2 separate regions of the Homo sapiens genome follow, and region 1 is linked to region 2. A link means that fine-mapping ties the variant in region 2 to the expression of a gene that starts in the linked region. Tissue or cell type: whole blood. Region 2 holds a variant in brackets; the other region holds the start of a gene. All regions are shown on one strand. Distances are from middle to middle.

Region 1 (8,000 bases), 170 kb after region 2:
GCTTTCAGGCATTGGTCTCCTTCTAATGAGGGGAATCGACCACACAGCTCCAGCATGACCATGCTCACCTATCCCAGCAAATAGGTGTTTATCCCCAGTGAAACCCAGCACAGAACACCCTTAGGAGTAAAATTAGATTTTGGTGCATGAATGTTATTGACAAAAAAGACTCCCTGCTCAATGCCACTCGGGGACATGAGTCTGAATGTCCCTGCCATGGCCCAGGGGAATGATGTCTGTATCACCAAACCAGTGCTGGCACCTGGACCTTGTCACCACTGACAGGGCTGAGAGGAGGTCAGCTGCCGGCTGCTGTACCCGGAACAGGTTTCTAGGGATCAGGCAGAGGCAAGAGGCTGGGGAAGCAGCTTGCCTTGCCAGCTCACCAGGCTGCTCTGGAGAGAAATAGAGGGCTTCTATCTCTATTACTGTCAGAGTCTGGCACTTCTCCCCGGCTCTGAAATTCACAGCAATGGATGGAGGAGGGAGGAGGGAGAAGGAAGGAGGTGCAAGCCAGACAATCAAAACAGCCACAATATTTTGGAAGTGGAATATTCCAGCTAGAGAAAATTCTCTAAAGCATTGAGCAGTAGGGCTGGAAGAGGCCCTAGCTAATCCAGCACTCTGGTTTTGTAGAGGAAATAGTTGAGAGGCAGAAAGACAAAGCAACTTCTCTGAGGTTACAAGGTCAGTAAGGGGCAGAACTGGGACAAGGCTCTGGGTCTTCGGTGCTTTCACCACTTAAAAGAAAGCTTTTGCTTTCTTCCTTTATAAAACCAGAGATTGGCAGGGGGCTTCCTTTTGTGGGAACCCCAGTGGAGACAGAGGATGTTTACCTGCAGGGAAGAGGGGCCAGGGCCCGGCTGTGCCTGGACCCAGAGTGGTGGGGAAGGGGGGTATGCTCATACCTTGCAGGTTGACGCCCCGGGGCACCACGCCCTGAAGCTCCACTGTGGGCAGGTCATCTTCCGCTGCATTAGAGTTATTGGGTGGAACTGCTCTTCTGCCTCCAAAGGCGGTCCTGGAAGTTTCTGACATTTTTGACTTTACAAGGTCCTTCAGAAAAAAAAAAAAAAGAAGACAACAGAAAAGGCATGTAAAGTGAGTAACATTTGAGACAAGGATTCCAAAATAGAGAAACAGATATATCTGTGTGTGATAGCACTTGAGCAACACATTTTGCCGTTTGCATAAATAAAAACTGAGAAGTGGCAGCAAGGATTAGTCTAATGATGGAATACAGTTCCCCAAGGATCTTGGGGAGATTTTTGTATGTGTCAAAACATATGGAAAGCAGAAGAAAAGGGGCTTATTCAAAGAAATTTAAAAATTAAAAGATTTTTGGAGACCCAGATTCCCCCACCCTCCATAATCCTACAGCAGCATCTTCGCAAGAAATGTTTCCTGTTATATGCATGTGCTGTATCTATGTTCATTTCATACAGATTTATGAGATTATAAGTCACTTTTAAGAATAAACGCACACAACCATGTCCAGACAAATGTTGTCTTCTAAAGCGTTTACATTTGCAATTTAATTCAACCAATATTTATTGAGGGCCTATGACATGCCAGGCTGTGATCTAGGTACATGGGATACATCAGAGAACAAAACAGAATGTTTGCTCTGATAGATTATAGTCTGATAGGGTTAGGGTGGAGCCCAAGAAGAGCCATAAGTAAATCCACTTAGGGGTGAGGAGGTAGGAACTGCTTTGGAAATTGAGCCACATGGAGGAGGATAAGGAGGTGGAGAGGTTGGGCATGCAATTTTCAATAGGGCTATCAATAGGCTTAAGAAGTCAGGGTTGCCAACATTTCCCATTCCCCAAGCCTGCTTCCCCTTCCCTTGGAGCTTGTGCAGGCACTGAGCCAGTTTAAACAACACACACCTGACGGTCAGTGCCCAGTAAGTACTTGTTGACCAAATGACCAAATGAAGGGGGACTTTGTTTCTGGGCCCAGTGAAGGTTCCCCCTTGATCCCCTGGATTACCCAGTCATGACTCCTGGAGACTTGGCTATTTTCAAAAACCAGGCACACCCCCAAGAGGTGAAGAGTCCCCATTATAGAGGCCACCAGAGTAGAGAGATGGTTCCAGAGACATGTGGAGCACTAACAACATGCTGGAGAAAAGACAACCACGCCTAAGGTGTCTGGTCTGAGAAGGAGACAGGAGTGTTTGGATGCATAAGGTGTGAATGGGTATCCATAAGTATAGATAAATATATTTACAGTCATTGGTGAGCTGACGGGGGAAGGGAGGGAGAAGAGCGAAAAAGGGTTAATGATAGGGAGAAGGCTGCGAGAGCCATCCTCTAGTGAGAAATACCGAAGGTAGGCTGCGGCATTGCCAGGGGTGCAGAACAGTGTGGCGCGCTGTCGGGAGACACAGTGCTAAGGGGGAGAAGGGGGGAGCCCCAGGTGCACGCCTGGCTGGGTGAGTGCGGCGGGCAGGAGCCCTCGCTTCTGGGCGGGTCTAAGGAGGAGAAGTGGCTCGAGTTCAGCTCCAAATTGGGACGGAGGCAGGCGATGCGCAGGAGTGGGGAGGCGCGCAGGAGTGGGGAGCCAAGCCGGCGGGGTTCCAGTCTAGCAGGCTGTTCTCACTTGGCCCCACTCCCTCCACCTTTTGTGTTCCAGCTCCATAATCTGCTCCCTGAGGAAAGGGGGCTCGTCCCTTGGGGAAGCACCTCCAACTCCCCCATCCCCATTTGGTGGCATTCTAAGCAAGCAACGGCTTCGGGAGAGCTGCCTCGAGAGCCTGAGAGAAGTCCCGCTTAGAAGCTGGGCTGGGCAGGTGCGGAGTTGGGGGCGGGAAGCCAGGATTGGGCAAGTGGAGCTGCCTGTGACCGGCGCCACAGGGCCCAGAGCAAGCCGCTTGCTGGTTCAACCAGGAAACCGAGGTGCAGAAGGTGGACGCAGCGGGCCCTGGCTCATAGGGTGCAGGGTCGGTGGCTTACCTGCAGGCGCTCCCCTCCAGAGGTGCCCTCGCGTGGGCTTGCTCTGTGCGCCTCGGGGACTTCCTCAAACGGACTCGGGAAAGACAAGACAGTTGGCTCTTAAATAACTTCCTAAGAGGAGCCCTCACCCTCCTCCCCTGTCCCACAGGGTTTTCTCCTCCCCCTTCTCCACAGCTGGAGCCAGTAGGGGAGCTCAGAGGATTTTCTATTTACTTCATCTGGCCTGTTATCCCGGCAGGTGCGCCCTTCTCTCCCACTTGCCCCTCTGACTCCCAATTTCCCATTCCCACTTCTCCTCCCCATCCCCATCCCTAGATCTGCCCTCCCCACCGCAACCAGTTGCTGGGAGTACCAGGCAAGGGGCCCTGCAGTGCCAGGAAGTCCCCACCCGTCCCCTTTGGTCAGAGGGTCTGGGAGGGTTTCCTTTACAAAGGAATGCTTTTGCCTGGCAGGTCAGCTGCTACTGTGGCTTGGCAGGAGGGGGGTCTGCCCTCCCACAGACAGGTCACACAGACAGTTGTGACCATGCATGCAGTGAGAGCAACGTGTCCCTCCTGTGCAAATAAGGCATGGTCTGCATTCCTGAATCATCCCAGAGCCACAGCCACCGCCTAACCACAAGACTTCCTGCAGGAATGGGATGCCTAGCCCCAAGGAAGATGAGTAAACATCTTTAATAATGCCATGCAGATTAGAAAATAACACTTGGTTTTCTCTGAAAATCATTTTAGTGCATGTTCAAAAATTAGAAAATTTTCCCCCTAAAATTTTAATTTTTTTCTTTTACTCTTTCTTTCTTTCTTTCTTTCATCTTTCTATCTTTCAGATGAAGTCTTGCTCTGTTGCAAAGGCTGGAGTGCAACCTCCACCTCCCGGGTTCAAGTGATTCTTCTGCCTCAGCCTCCCAAGTAGCTGGAACTACAGGTGCATGCCACCATGCCCGCCTAATTTTTGTATTTTTAGTAGAGATGGGGCTTTACCATGTTGGCCAGGCTGGTCTCGAACTTCTGACCTCAGGTGATCCACCCTCCTTGGCTTCCCAAAGTGTTGGGATTACAGGCGTGAGCCACCGCACCCAGTCAAACATGGCTATTTCTAACCTTCTTTACTGTCTTCAAATTTCTGACCCTGCCACTCAATCTCCCAATGTTATAAAGAAGAAAAAAAAAGATGCCATTGGTTAGAAATTCTCTCAATTTTCTGCTACCAATCTATGAACCTGCCTGCAACCTTATCTATCTTTTCCTCTTTCTTCTTGTTACTGAAGTTGGAAAGGTCCCTCCTCCCTCTGCATCTCCAAACCAGGCTTCTGCGTTGCCTTGTTCTCCGGGGCTTTGCTGTGACTCTTACGTACTCTTCCTCTTGCAGCTTCAAGCTCCTGCTTGCTAATAGTGGGTCTTCTCAGCATTCATGCAATTTCAGGTCTCTTCAGTATTTTTTTAAAAACCTCCCCCAACCTATGTCCCCACTCCTGCTGTTACTCCTCCTCTCCTCCCCTTCATCACTAAGTATCTGCCATCTGGCTTCCGCCTCATCATTCTACTGAAAGTGGAGGTCACGGTCTCCAAGGCCTGTGCTCAGGCCAAAAGACAGGATTCAGTTCTTATTTACCTGACCTTTTGGAAGCATTGAACTCTGTCTTTGAAGGTATTTTTCCTAGGCCTCCTTGACATTGAACACTCTGTGGTTTCCTCCAGTGCAGCGCAATATTCCTTGATTGTCTGAGGAACTCCCATAGTTTTCAAATTCCATCTATATCCTGACACCTCCCAAATCTGGGTCTTTAGCCAAGATCTTTTCCAGAATTGCAGATTCCCGTATCTAAGTGCCTACTGGCTATCCTCATTTGTCACATCCCAGTGACAACACACGCTCATCATGTCTAACATGAGATGTATCACTTTCCTGGAAAACCTGGTGCATCTCAGGAGTTCCCTACCTCAATGAATACCATCACTTTGCACGCAGGTGGTACACCAGACACATGGGCATCATTCTTGAGGCTTCCTTGTTTCTCTCCCTCAATCATCAAATCCGATCCTTGAGCAAATATTTTCTATCCTACCTCTTAAACAGCCCTTGAATCTACCCGTGTATGTACCCCTTTCCAGTCCATTCTCTACAGTGCAGTCAGAATGAGCATTTCAGGGCTAAAATCCGAAATCAAATTATTTGCACAAAGCCCTTATATGGCTACTTCTCTTTGCTTTTTGGATAAATTGCAAGCTGAAACTGACAAGGCCTATACAAGCTGGACCCTGCCTCTAGCACTGCTCTTTCCCTCAGCATCCATACAATTTGAGGTCTCCAGTATTTTTAAAAAACCTTCCCCCAACACCAATCTACCCTCCCTGCCTTCCACTGTTGTTTCTCCTCTCCTCCTCTTCATCACTAAGCTTCTGCCATTTGGCTTCCATCTTTCTTCCCTATCATCTTCCTCTGCCATCTTTCTTCCCTGCCCAGTCTCCCTCCACTGACTCCCCAGTTGTCTTGCAAGGAGTTTGCCTTGTTGTAGTGCTCCTCACACTGCATGATCATTTTCTGTTTCCTTGGCTGTACCTGCACTAGAGTACAAAAAGGTAGGGACTCCAGCCAGAGTTCCCTGGAGAGAGGCTGCTGACCACTTAACTATCCAAAGGCCGTCTTTGCCACATCCCTTGCTGAGTGCTAGAGAAAGACCCTAAAGATGTCTAGCACTGCTTCCCCTCAGCATTCATACAATTTCAGGTCTCCTCAGTATTTTTAAACCCTCCCCCAATCCTTAACGATCATATTCTGGTAGTTCTCCTGGCAAACATCAAATCTGAGTGTCTAGAATTCCAAGATACCCTCATCCATGTGGGGTTGGAGGATGAGCAGCCACCCTTGCACCCTTCAGATGAGGTTACGCAGATGCCAGGTACCCCTGGGACTTGGGGTTGAGTTGTGCATTCAGAACAGGATTGTCACCCTCACAACCACCTCCACGGTGTCACTTTTGGCCTTAGACTAATTATTGGCTTTGTGAACATACACACACAGTGGTTGGCTTTCTGACTCCCCCAAACCACTAACCTCAAGAGCATCATAAATGCAATGGCTTTCCTTGTGCTAAACAAAGTCGATAAAAATGTGTCTAAGCCACCAAGCCCTAGAATGCGGTTGAAGCCCATTCATTTTACAGGGTATTCCTCATGGTTATATGGCTGAGACATCAGAACAAAGGTTTCTGGTCACACAGTGAATCTTGAACTGTGCTAGGGATGCAACTTCCACAGGTGCATAGGCTCTGAGGTCCTTAAGGATGGGATGGTGTCTTTTATTTCTGAATGCCCCCTGCCTGGCATGGAAGTGGAGCCATGTAAATATTTAAGGCATGTAACAGACGGGGTTCATCCAGGAAAACAAAAACCACTTTAGGTCTTTCTAAAAGAAGGAATTTAAGGCAGGGGATTGGTTACACAGGTGAGAGAAGAGACAAGAAACCAAACACGAGAAGGTGAATCAACTCCACAATTAGCAACAGCAGAGAGGAGTTGGTGTCGTTGTAGCGGGAGGACTGAGGGTAGGTCAGGCACTGGAACCGTGTGGTCCTGTCTGGTGGGAGCTTTAGATCCCATAATTCCAAGAAACACTGTCTGAGGTCAAGAGGGAGGGAAGAATGATCCTAGCTTGTCCCTTTCTTCCCGCTCCCTCTCCCTCCCTTGTCTGCCGTTTTGCTGAACTCCACTAGAATCAGTTGACAAAGGACTCTGGAAAATACCGCCTGCAAAGTTAGCCCCACCACTCCTGTGCTGGGGCCCCAAGGCTACCCCCAGGTTCTGTGATTCACTAGGAGGACTCACCAGACTCGGCCACCCACGTAGCTATGATCAGATACAAATGTACATATATCATATATACTACACGATAAATCATGACGAAAAGATACAAATCCAAATCAGCAGAGAAAAGGCACTTGGGCAAAGTCTGGAGGACCAGGCAGAAGTTCCCAAAGGTCCTGTCCTAATCAAGGCACATGGGCTGTGCCTACCAACCCTGGCAATGAGTTGTGACAACACTGATATAATGTCATCTGCCAGGGATGCTCACCAGAGGCTCAGTGCTCAGGGTGTTTATGGGGGGCTGGTCACATAGGTACCCTCTACCTAGCTCATAGCCATTTTCCAGACTCCCTGAAGGAAGCAGGTGTTAAGCATGAGCCACAATTTTTGTACAGTTTAGGCCCAGCCAGCCCCACTTGTCAGTTAGGGAACAGTGGGAAGACTCCTGAAGTCCAAGTTCCCAGATGCCAGACAAGGGCCAAGCTTGCAAGTAGGGCTTTCTAAGCCAGTTTCAGGTTTGCTATGTTAACTCTTTACTGCATCCATACAGGGAAAGGGTGAGGAAAGGCTCTCTGGGCAAACAGTTCCAGGACTGCCACAACACACTGTGCTCTTTCATCATGGCATGGCCAGTCCCTCACATGAGATGTCAATAGGCCTGGAGCACGAGGAGACTCCAATGAGAACGTCACAAGGGTAATCCAGTTCTGCCCCTACTTTCTTGGCCTTACCAGCTCAGCATGAGACCTCCAAGGAGACGTGAACTCCCTCTGGCTGCACGGGCCTGGGCATACCTTCTCACTCTTCTGAAGCTGAAGGGCTCACCCCATTGCCTCCCCAAGAAGCAGGGTAAAAATTCCTAAACACATCACTCTGGGATCCTGGCGTCTCTCAGAAATATGTAGTAAACTTTGGGAGTTGTGAGTAAACAGAAAATACGTGGGAGGAGGGATTCCGGATCCCCTTACCTTGATCCTTTAATTCTGAGTTTTCATTTCTATGGTATTGACACTTTTCTCTGCAGTCTCTCCAGACAAACCATCTTTCTCCTACTTGGCAATACCCAAGGAGCAGACCATATTTGTTCAGGCAATGAATTTTCTGGCAAACTCTATTTGATTTACATGCAAAACTTCACATCTCAAACAAACAAACAAAAAACCCAGTCATGTCTGGACGCTGCTGGTTTTTTCCAGCTGAACAAGACCTGGATTTTGTTGGTTATAGATGTAATTCC
Region 2 (8,258 bases):
TGTCTACTGCGGAGGAAGGATGGTTTCTCAAGAAGTTGTGATTAGTAGTGTGTTATATTGAAAATTAAAAGCATTCACTTCTGCACAGATGCAAATATAATCAGTTTAACTTTATTTTAAGCTTCTATTACATTGTAATTAATAATAATATACTAAGTTAAGCCAGTTTAACTGTCTAGCAAAATGCATTTCATTTTAAAATTGGATATTGGGAGACTTGGCAAATGCTGTGAGATTACTTAGTAAAGTTAAGTATGATGTATATATAGAGGGGACCAGCTCACCCTCATAGGTTAGTGCTGAAGGCTCAGGAACAGTCTCAAAGGCTTAGAAATGTGGTTATATAGACCAGAGCATTCCATTCTGATTTTGCCCCCAGTATACTTATCACTGTTCATTTTTTGCTAAGAATCACAGTCTACTGACCTAAATCACACCCTAGACATATCAGAGGGAAATTCTGACCATAAATCAGCCTTGCAAATACATAGCAGGCAGCCTTCTCTGTAGTAGCCTTGGAACATAATACAAATGATGTCAGCATCCTCTGTGGTTGGGTCAGAACTAGCACTGGCTATTTGCAAGGCTGAGTCCATATTACCCTTCAGCACCTGAGTGCCAAGCTGAGGTCTCAACATGGGTGATGTGAAGGACAAGAGAGAATCAGTGGCTGCAGTCCTTCTATATATCTGGTCACTAGATCCGCCAGCTTCTTCAACTTGTTGGGCTTATTATATCTCTGAAAGGGGACCTGAACCTGCATCATTCTGCAAAGGAGATGATTCCTGAGAGATGGGTGAAATATAATCACTAACTAAAGAGATAAATTCTTCACTTTACTTCCTAGTATTGCATCCCAGAAAGGGTTAAAGTAAGGGATATTGGCTCCTGCTGATCAGGCCACAGTGTGACACATTCTATAAAATGCATCACAAAACTACATTATTCAATAGACTTGAGTGTTGCACCTGCTTTCTTATCTCCTTGTAGGTGGTTAAGTTTCCCACAAATGCAATTTGTTAATATGGGGCCACCTCTTCTAACAAGGTAAATCTAAAATTTGGCAGGCATTTGCTTGGCTGCAGGTGCAAAATGAAAGATCTTTTTCTGGCTTTGCCAAAAATAAAAATTATGTTGTGCTCTAGTCCTGGGAAAAATATTCTCACATGGAGGGTAGAACCTGACCCCGAGAAAGGGGACTGGAATTCTAGAGCCCAAATCATGTGCTATTATTCCCAAAAGGCTGAGTGGGGAATCTGAAGTCTTGTTTTAAATGAGGCCAGGTATTGAGCAAATCTCCCTGGTAAGAGAGCCCACTGATATTTGGAGATGTAGCCATTTGTGATGATAAATGATGACTGTTACTCTTATGAGCTATGAGAGCTTAATTAAAGCTAATGCTTAGCACTCTTTGGAAGGTGGAGAGATTAAAAACTAACTTCCTTGCCGAATAGCCTGGGTTTGGAAAAGCATGTTTTTGAAATATGTGGGATCTCCACTCTGGAGCCCTCTGCAGTCCTGTCTGGGTCTTCACACCTAAGTCAAAGCAAGAGCTATTTTTGCGTTAGAATTTCCTTAGCCAAGACTACAAGAGGCCAAATGCCAGGGTTCATCTCAGCTTCCTGTGCATTCACATGGAAGGTCGTCTTTGAATCTGCACGTCCAGCTCGCCATACACATGTCTCAGGGAGTCACTGCTCATGCTGGCTATCAGCTTCCGATGCCCAGAGACCCAGGGCCGGCACACTTCTTCCCACTGCACGGTGGAGTTGGGCCGGATTTCACTGAAAGGATGGAAAAGAGAGGAGAGGTTGGAAGATCCAGCTTTCCACTTTGATCAGGAAGCAATGAAAACTCTTGCCTAAGTCACTTGCTTTCTTTCTCTCAGTTGGTGCTTAGGACACTGAAGACTCTCACTGGCTGATTCAGCAAGTTATGCCCCAAATGAGGCCCCCACATAAAGCTCTGCAGAACCTGTCACTGACAGTCTTATTGGGTCATGGTTCCTTCCACTGGGATGCATCCGCCAGCCTCCCAGTGGCCATCAGGAGCTGGGCTGATTCCCATCCAACCATTAATCAACTGAACTCTAGCTTGTCTCCAAGCCCTCCATAGTAGCCTTATCTATGTGACTGATCTTCTGAGCCTCAGCTCAGTTTTTGCCACTAGTTTCCTCCTGGAATTACAGTCCTATATGAATCCCCCAGCTGCCTTTGCTGAGGCCCTGACACTCGAATTAGCTTTTGCCAACTCCCTTGGGATAGACCTTGTTCCCAGGCTCAGCATCTGGAATATAGCCCTGCCTGCTGCCATTTGACTTTGAGAATCTTCATGTTCTGTAATTCAAATTCCTATTTCAACCACCAAATTGGGCCCCTCCACCTATGCAACTTTCTGCTACCATTTGTTGCCAATGCCCTAATGTATGCGGCTAATGACATAGCCTTTCATGGTTCTAGTGTTCTCCTCTTCCTCCCAGCCTTTGCCCTGAAGTCTTCCTGAGTGTCACGAACAAGCCCACATCAGTGCAGACTGAGACTAATCAGGGTTGGTGAGATTTAGTGTTCTCTGGGGTGCTTCACATATAGCCTCCCCTATAAACCTTGGGAGATTATATTCAGGTTTTATATGTATGACAGTTCTTTGAGGCAGATACTATTCAGCAGATTTTATGATCAAGAAAAATGGAAGGTAACCAGTGAAGTCCCTTTTTCAAGATCACATAATTGGTAAATGGGCAGAGATGAAATTTGAACCCGGGTTTTTCTGAGTCCCATATTCATACTCTTTCTGCTCCTCTTCACTGCACTTCATAAAAGTGTACACCATATGTTCTATAAGAAAAGGCTTTTTCTAAGATATTTGCACACACATATTTATAGCAGCACAGTGTGCAATTGCAAAAATATGGAACCAGCCCAAATGCCCATCAATGAGTGAATAAAGAAATTGTGGTATGCATATACCATGGAATACTACTCAGCCATAAAAAGGAATGAAACAATGGAATTCACAGTGACCTAGATGAAACTGGAGACCAGTATTCTAAGTGAAGTAACTCAGGAATGGAAAACCAAACATCCTATGTTCTCACTCATAAGCTGGAGCTAAGCTATGAGGATGCAAAGGCATAACAATGAACAATGACGCAATGGTCTTTGGGGACTCAGGGGAAAGGTGGGAGGGATAAAAGACTACAAAATGGTTACAGTATATACTGCTTAGGTGATGGGTGACCAAATGTCTCAGAAACCACCACCAAAGAACTTATTCATGTAACCAAACACCAACTGTTCCCCAAAAACCTATAGAAATAAAAAAAGAAAAGAAGAAAAGGCTTTTTCTGACCATTGTGCTTACTTTTTCATAGGTTTTATTTCTCAAGCAGGAAAGATACTTTTTGACTTAGTAATAAGAGTGTCCTGGAAGTGTTCATGGAGGATTCATTGAACTCTTTGCAAGATAATTTAGGAAAGTTTCTCCTGCCTGTATGCAGAGAGAAAATTCTCAGTGCTCAATTCAATACCAATATAAGTTTGGGATATTTATTTCTCAACAGCTGTGCTATTGTTACCTGTATCCATTCATTCTCTCTCCTCTGGTTCCCCCAAGTGATCAATCAGAAGCACTTTGTGAAACAGTGGCCCTGGTTAAGGACCCGACCTGAGACCATGTACTGTAGA[T/C]AACCACCTCAAATAGAAGCTAAGTATTTAGCCCCCTCTTATCATTTTCTCTTACTCATAAAACCATCCGGCATAATGATGTGTACATACGAAAAAACTCATACATGAAAATACTCATACATGAAGATACGTATGCATGCTATTTTACATACAGATAAATTCATAACAGAGAAAAAAGTATTTTGATAAGTGGAGCAATGTTGGAGTAATCCTATTTTCTGGGGATGGATGTTGTGATAAACGATTCTCAGTAACGTGCTGAGCCATCAGGAGATACCGGCCATTTATCATCTTGAATGCACGCAGGCAAATAAGATTATTATTACAATAAACTGCAACTGCCCATGGTTTGTCCTCTGTGCTTCTAGACCTTAGCTTCTGTCCTATTTGAGAAACTTAAAGTTTAAGCCCAAATCACAAAGTGGGGGAGTTTTTCTCTTGAAATAACATATTGAACTGGATCATTTTCTAAAGAGCAAAATAAATCTGGAAGATAAATTATTTGACGCTCTGGAAGCATCAAGTGCAGAAAGTTAAGAGTCTGTGGAGGTGGAACCTCTGCACATCTGAGACAGGCCGGAGGCAGTGGGGGAAGAGCAGGAAGATAAACCATTTCAGAGTAGAGTTGGCTCACTGCGAGTGAGGGGTGAGACACAGCACCGCCTTCTTTGTTCCTGGCTCCAATTCCCTGTTTACCAGCTCCTCACCTTCCAGGCCCTCTGCTTTGGGTTCAATAACCCCTGCCTTCTAGACACCACATCTGGCAGGGTGTGGGTGAATGAGTGGGGGTGGTGATTCCCCAACTATTTAAGAGCTGTATTCTAGAAAGAAATACGGTCTTGCAAAGGATTTTGGTTTTGTGGAATTGCACTTTCTAGGCGTCCAAGTTGTTACATGGATCTGGCGCTCCTAGATCAGATCTTGGCAACATAGGGCACAGTGGAGTGCTTCTAATTATCTGACCATATGGAAGTGGGCACGGACTGGCTCAGGTCTTGGTTGTGAAGGTGTGTGCTGGAGTGAGGAGTAAACAGAGAAAGTGGCACTTGCTCCAAGTTGTAAGCCCATCTTAGATAACAAATGTTTTCTATGTCATGATTTTTAGCCCAAGTTTTGACTGTCTCTGAGAAATAAAGCTTCTCTTGTCTGGGAGATATTCCACCCTGAAGCTGGGTTTCTGTAACTATTCAGCCATAAAAAGAATAAAATCCTGCCATTTGTAACAACATGAATTAGACTTGGAGGAAGGGCATCATGGTAAGTGAAATAAACCAGACATGGAAAGACAAATACTACATGATTTCACTCACATGTAGACACTAAAAAAAAAAAAATTATTATACCATAGAAGCAAAGAGCAGAACAGTGGTTACCAGAGACTGAGGAGGAGAACATGAAGGGGAAGATGGGAAGAGGTTGGCCAATGAGAACAAAGTGACAATTAAATAGGAGGAATAAGTTCTGGTGTTCTATTGCATGATAAGGTAACTATGATTAACAGTAGGTATTGTATATTACAAAAGAGCTAGAAGACAGGCTTTTGAATGTTCTCACCACAAAGAAATGATAAATGCATGGGGTGATGGATACACTAAATACTCCGATTTGATCATTATACAACATATATATGTATCGAAACATCAAATTGCCCCACATAAATATGTAGAATTACAATGTGTCAGTAAAAAAAACTTAAAAAGAGAGATTGAGGACTGTTACGGACTAAATGTTTGTGGTCCTCACACATTCATTTGTTGAAACCCAAACTCCAGTGTGATACCATTTAGCGATGGAGCTTTGGGGAGGTAACTAAATTAGAATAGGTCATGAGGGTGGGGCTCATGATGGGATTAGTGCCCTTCGAAGAAGAGGTGCCAGAGAACTTGCCCTCCCTCTCTCTGCCCCATGTGAGGACACAGTGAAAAGACAGCCATCTGCAAGCTGGGAAGGGAGCCCTCATCAGGAACCGAATTGGTCGGCACCTTGTCCTCAGACTTCCCAGACTCCAGAAGTGTGAGATATAAATGTTTGTTGTATAAGCCACCCAGTCTATGGCATTTCTGTTACAGCAGCTCAAACTGACTAAGAGCAGCTAGCTCTCTGTCTATCTACTTGTCTGCCTAGACTTACGTGTTGCAGTAACTACTAACAGTACCTTAAGCCAGTGTGTGGGCAGGACATCTGTGTCCAAGAAGGGACTGGCCTTATCCATCCTTTCTCCCGATTCACTCCACTTTGCTCCACTCCAATGTCAGACATTAACAATAAACAAACCATCTGGAGATTTAACCTATTTTGAGCCTGAGGCCTCCCAAATAGTGGGTCATTGCACTGTGTAATAATTCACTGTGTAATAATTCATCTTTTGTCTAAGACACACAGTGTCTTTTTTCATGTGTTGGCCTTGACCAAGGTGGAATTCTAGGGGGATAGCCAAGGTGTAAAGATAGAGAAGTTTCCGGTACACTCAGATAAAGCTTGTGGGTTTACTGTCTGGGAAGGAAAAAGTTGGATACAGCAGGGGGCTGTATGGAAGAGGAAACGTGTTTCACTTTGCCTGAACGATTCTTGCATCTGATTTGAGTGGGAAGGTGCGAGAATGGGTGAGTGAGACTGTCGTTTCTGACGAAAGCAGGGGTATGGCTGCTGACCTCTCTATGTAGCTGGGGTTGATTACTAATTTACTTATTTTTTTTTCCTGTAACTTTCCTGTTAGCACAGGAAGGTTGCTATGTTTTGTGCTTGCGTTGTTTCAAAAGCACTAAGATTATTTTCTCTGTTGTTTATTGCATCTGCAATAAGGCATCTCTTAAATGATGAGATGCAGAAGCTACGAGCATTGTAATTTGAAAGAAATGCGGAGAGCCCTTTATGGGCAATAAAGTTGCCCCAGAGGGTATAAGTGAGGCCTTGCATTTATCCCACAGATTCCAGAGTGGGGTCGCTTCCATAAAGGGTGTCGGGAAAATTCTTGACATATCTGGTCATGAGGCAGTTTCCAAAGTCCTCTACCTCCCTTTCTATGCCTTAGAAGGTCACTCCACAGGAAATGTGCTAGATTGATTGATGCTGACAAGGACTTATTTGTGGTAGAAATGAAAGTAATAAACCTCAAAGATTGGGATCCATTCTGGGTGTCACACTTTAAGAGGAGTAGTGACAAATTGGAATGTGTGGGAGAGAGAGAGAGAGAGCTGAAACCATGTTAGAGGAGAGGGAAATAAAGTCAGGACAGATATTTGTCCCCAGGTAGAAAAGATTCAAGGAAGATGAGACAGCTGTTTGCAAACATTTGCAAACCATCAGATGGAAAAGAGATGGGCCTTACTTTCTGTCAGTCCAGATGGCAGAATTAGGATCATTGGCAGGATCAAATGGTAGAAAAACCTGTTTCCTTACTGTTAGAGCTACCTGACCATGGAATGGGTTATCTTGTTGGGTCACACTCTTTGTTAGTAGAAGTCACAGAAACTGAGACCTGTCAAGCACAATTTGAAGTGGCCTGTGTGTGGAAGAGGCTGAGTTTCATTCATATCATTACAGAACCTGGGGTTGTCTTTGGTCCCCTGAATGGGGAACCATCTAGAGCTCTTTAGGCTCAACTAAAAAAAAACCTGAATCCAACAGTTGTAGACACTGATTGGGATGGTAAAATCTGTGAGGTGAGGCTGGAGACAAAGCACCCATGAAAAGGGGGTATCTCTCAGCATAATATCTGACACGTGGTAGGAGCTCAATAAAGATGAGAAGAGACCATACGTGAGTAGGTAGTACAGCAAAGTGGTTCAAACTTGGGTTCTGGAATTCACCAGCCTGAGTCTGAATCTTGGCTCTGTTTTCATAAACTGTGTAACTGAACCTGTGTAACCAGTCAACCTCTCAAAGCCTCAAATTCCTCAGCTACAGAAGGGAGATAATAGCAGTATCTACATCGTAGGGTGTCTTTAAGGATTAAATGATGAAAGTGCTGGTCAAACCAACCCTAGTTTTACTCCACGCCCTACAGAAATGGTCGGCAAGGAGGAGGCAGCTTCCAAGACATTTTCACTGGGGAGCAGATCTATGTTTGGAAAAGACACACACAGAGAAAGCTTCCCACAGCCCTGCACTGCCTGCCCGGTCTCCCCAACCCAAGGTTTACCGGAACATCTTCTTCATTGGTCTTGTTACTCCAGGACCATCCAGGTGTACCCAGACATTTCGCAGGGTTTCTTTTAAAGGATTGGTAAACTCAACTGTCACAGTCATGTCAGAACCAACTACCTGAGTGCCACGGACCTAAGAGAGAGAATGCAGGTCATTAGCACCAAATAAAACCTCGTTCTGCTCTCTTGTTGTCTTAACCATCATCACTTTTACTAGAGTTTTATGATACAGTTATTTTTTTGGCAATGGAACCAGTGTGATGAGGATAGCTGATTGCTTTGACTGGAGGATACCTATTGAGAAAGAGATGGAAATTTACTAATTAGAATCGCACTCTTTTCCTCATTATAAAACCAGCCTAATTAGAGCTCAGGTCAATAGCGGTGGCCACTGACTGCTCTTTGACAGCAGGAGGGGGAAGTTCATTTG

The links. PIP is the estimated chance that this variant, and not a neighbour inherited with it, causes the effect.
Region 1: F13A1 starts here. The variant in region 2 is fine-mapped to the expression of F13A1 in whole blood (INTERVAL, PIP 0.99).

Annotation. Positions count from the first base shown.
Region 1 is chr6:6,317,627-6,325,626 of GRCh38, forward strand. It overlaps F13A1 (coagulation factor XIII A chain), which reads right to left and starts at 3,036. Exons shown (of 15, transcript NM_000129.4): 1 at 2,961-3,036; 2 at 909-1,056. The coding sequence starts at 1,038. All of the region lies in intron 1 of LOC124901253 (a long non-coding RNA gene), which reads left to right.
Region 2 is chr6:6,143,989-6,152,246 of GRCh38, forward strand. F13A1 (coagulation factor XIII A chain) reads right to left here. Exons shown (of 15, transcript NM_000129.4): 14 at 7,825-7,961; 15 at 96-1,784. The coding sequence ends at 1,631. Among named protein-coding and RNA genes, the nearest start is that of MIR5683, 21 kb to the right of the region's middle. The variant T/C (reference allele first, on the strand shown) is at 3,684.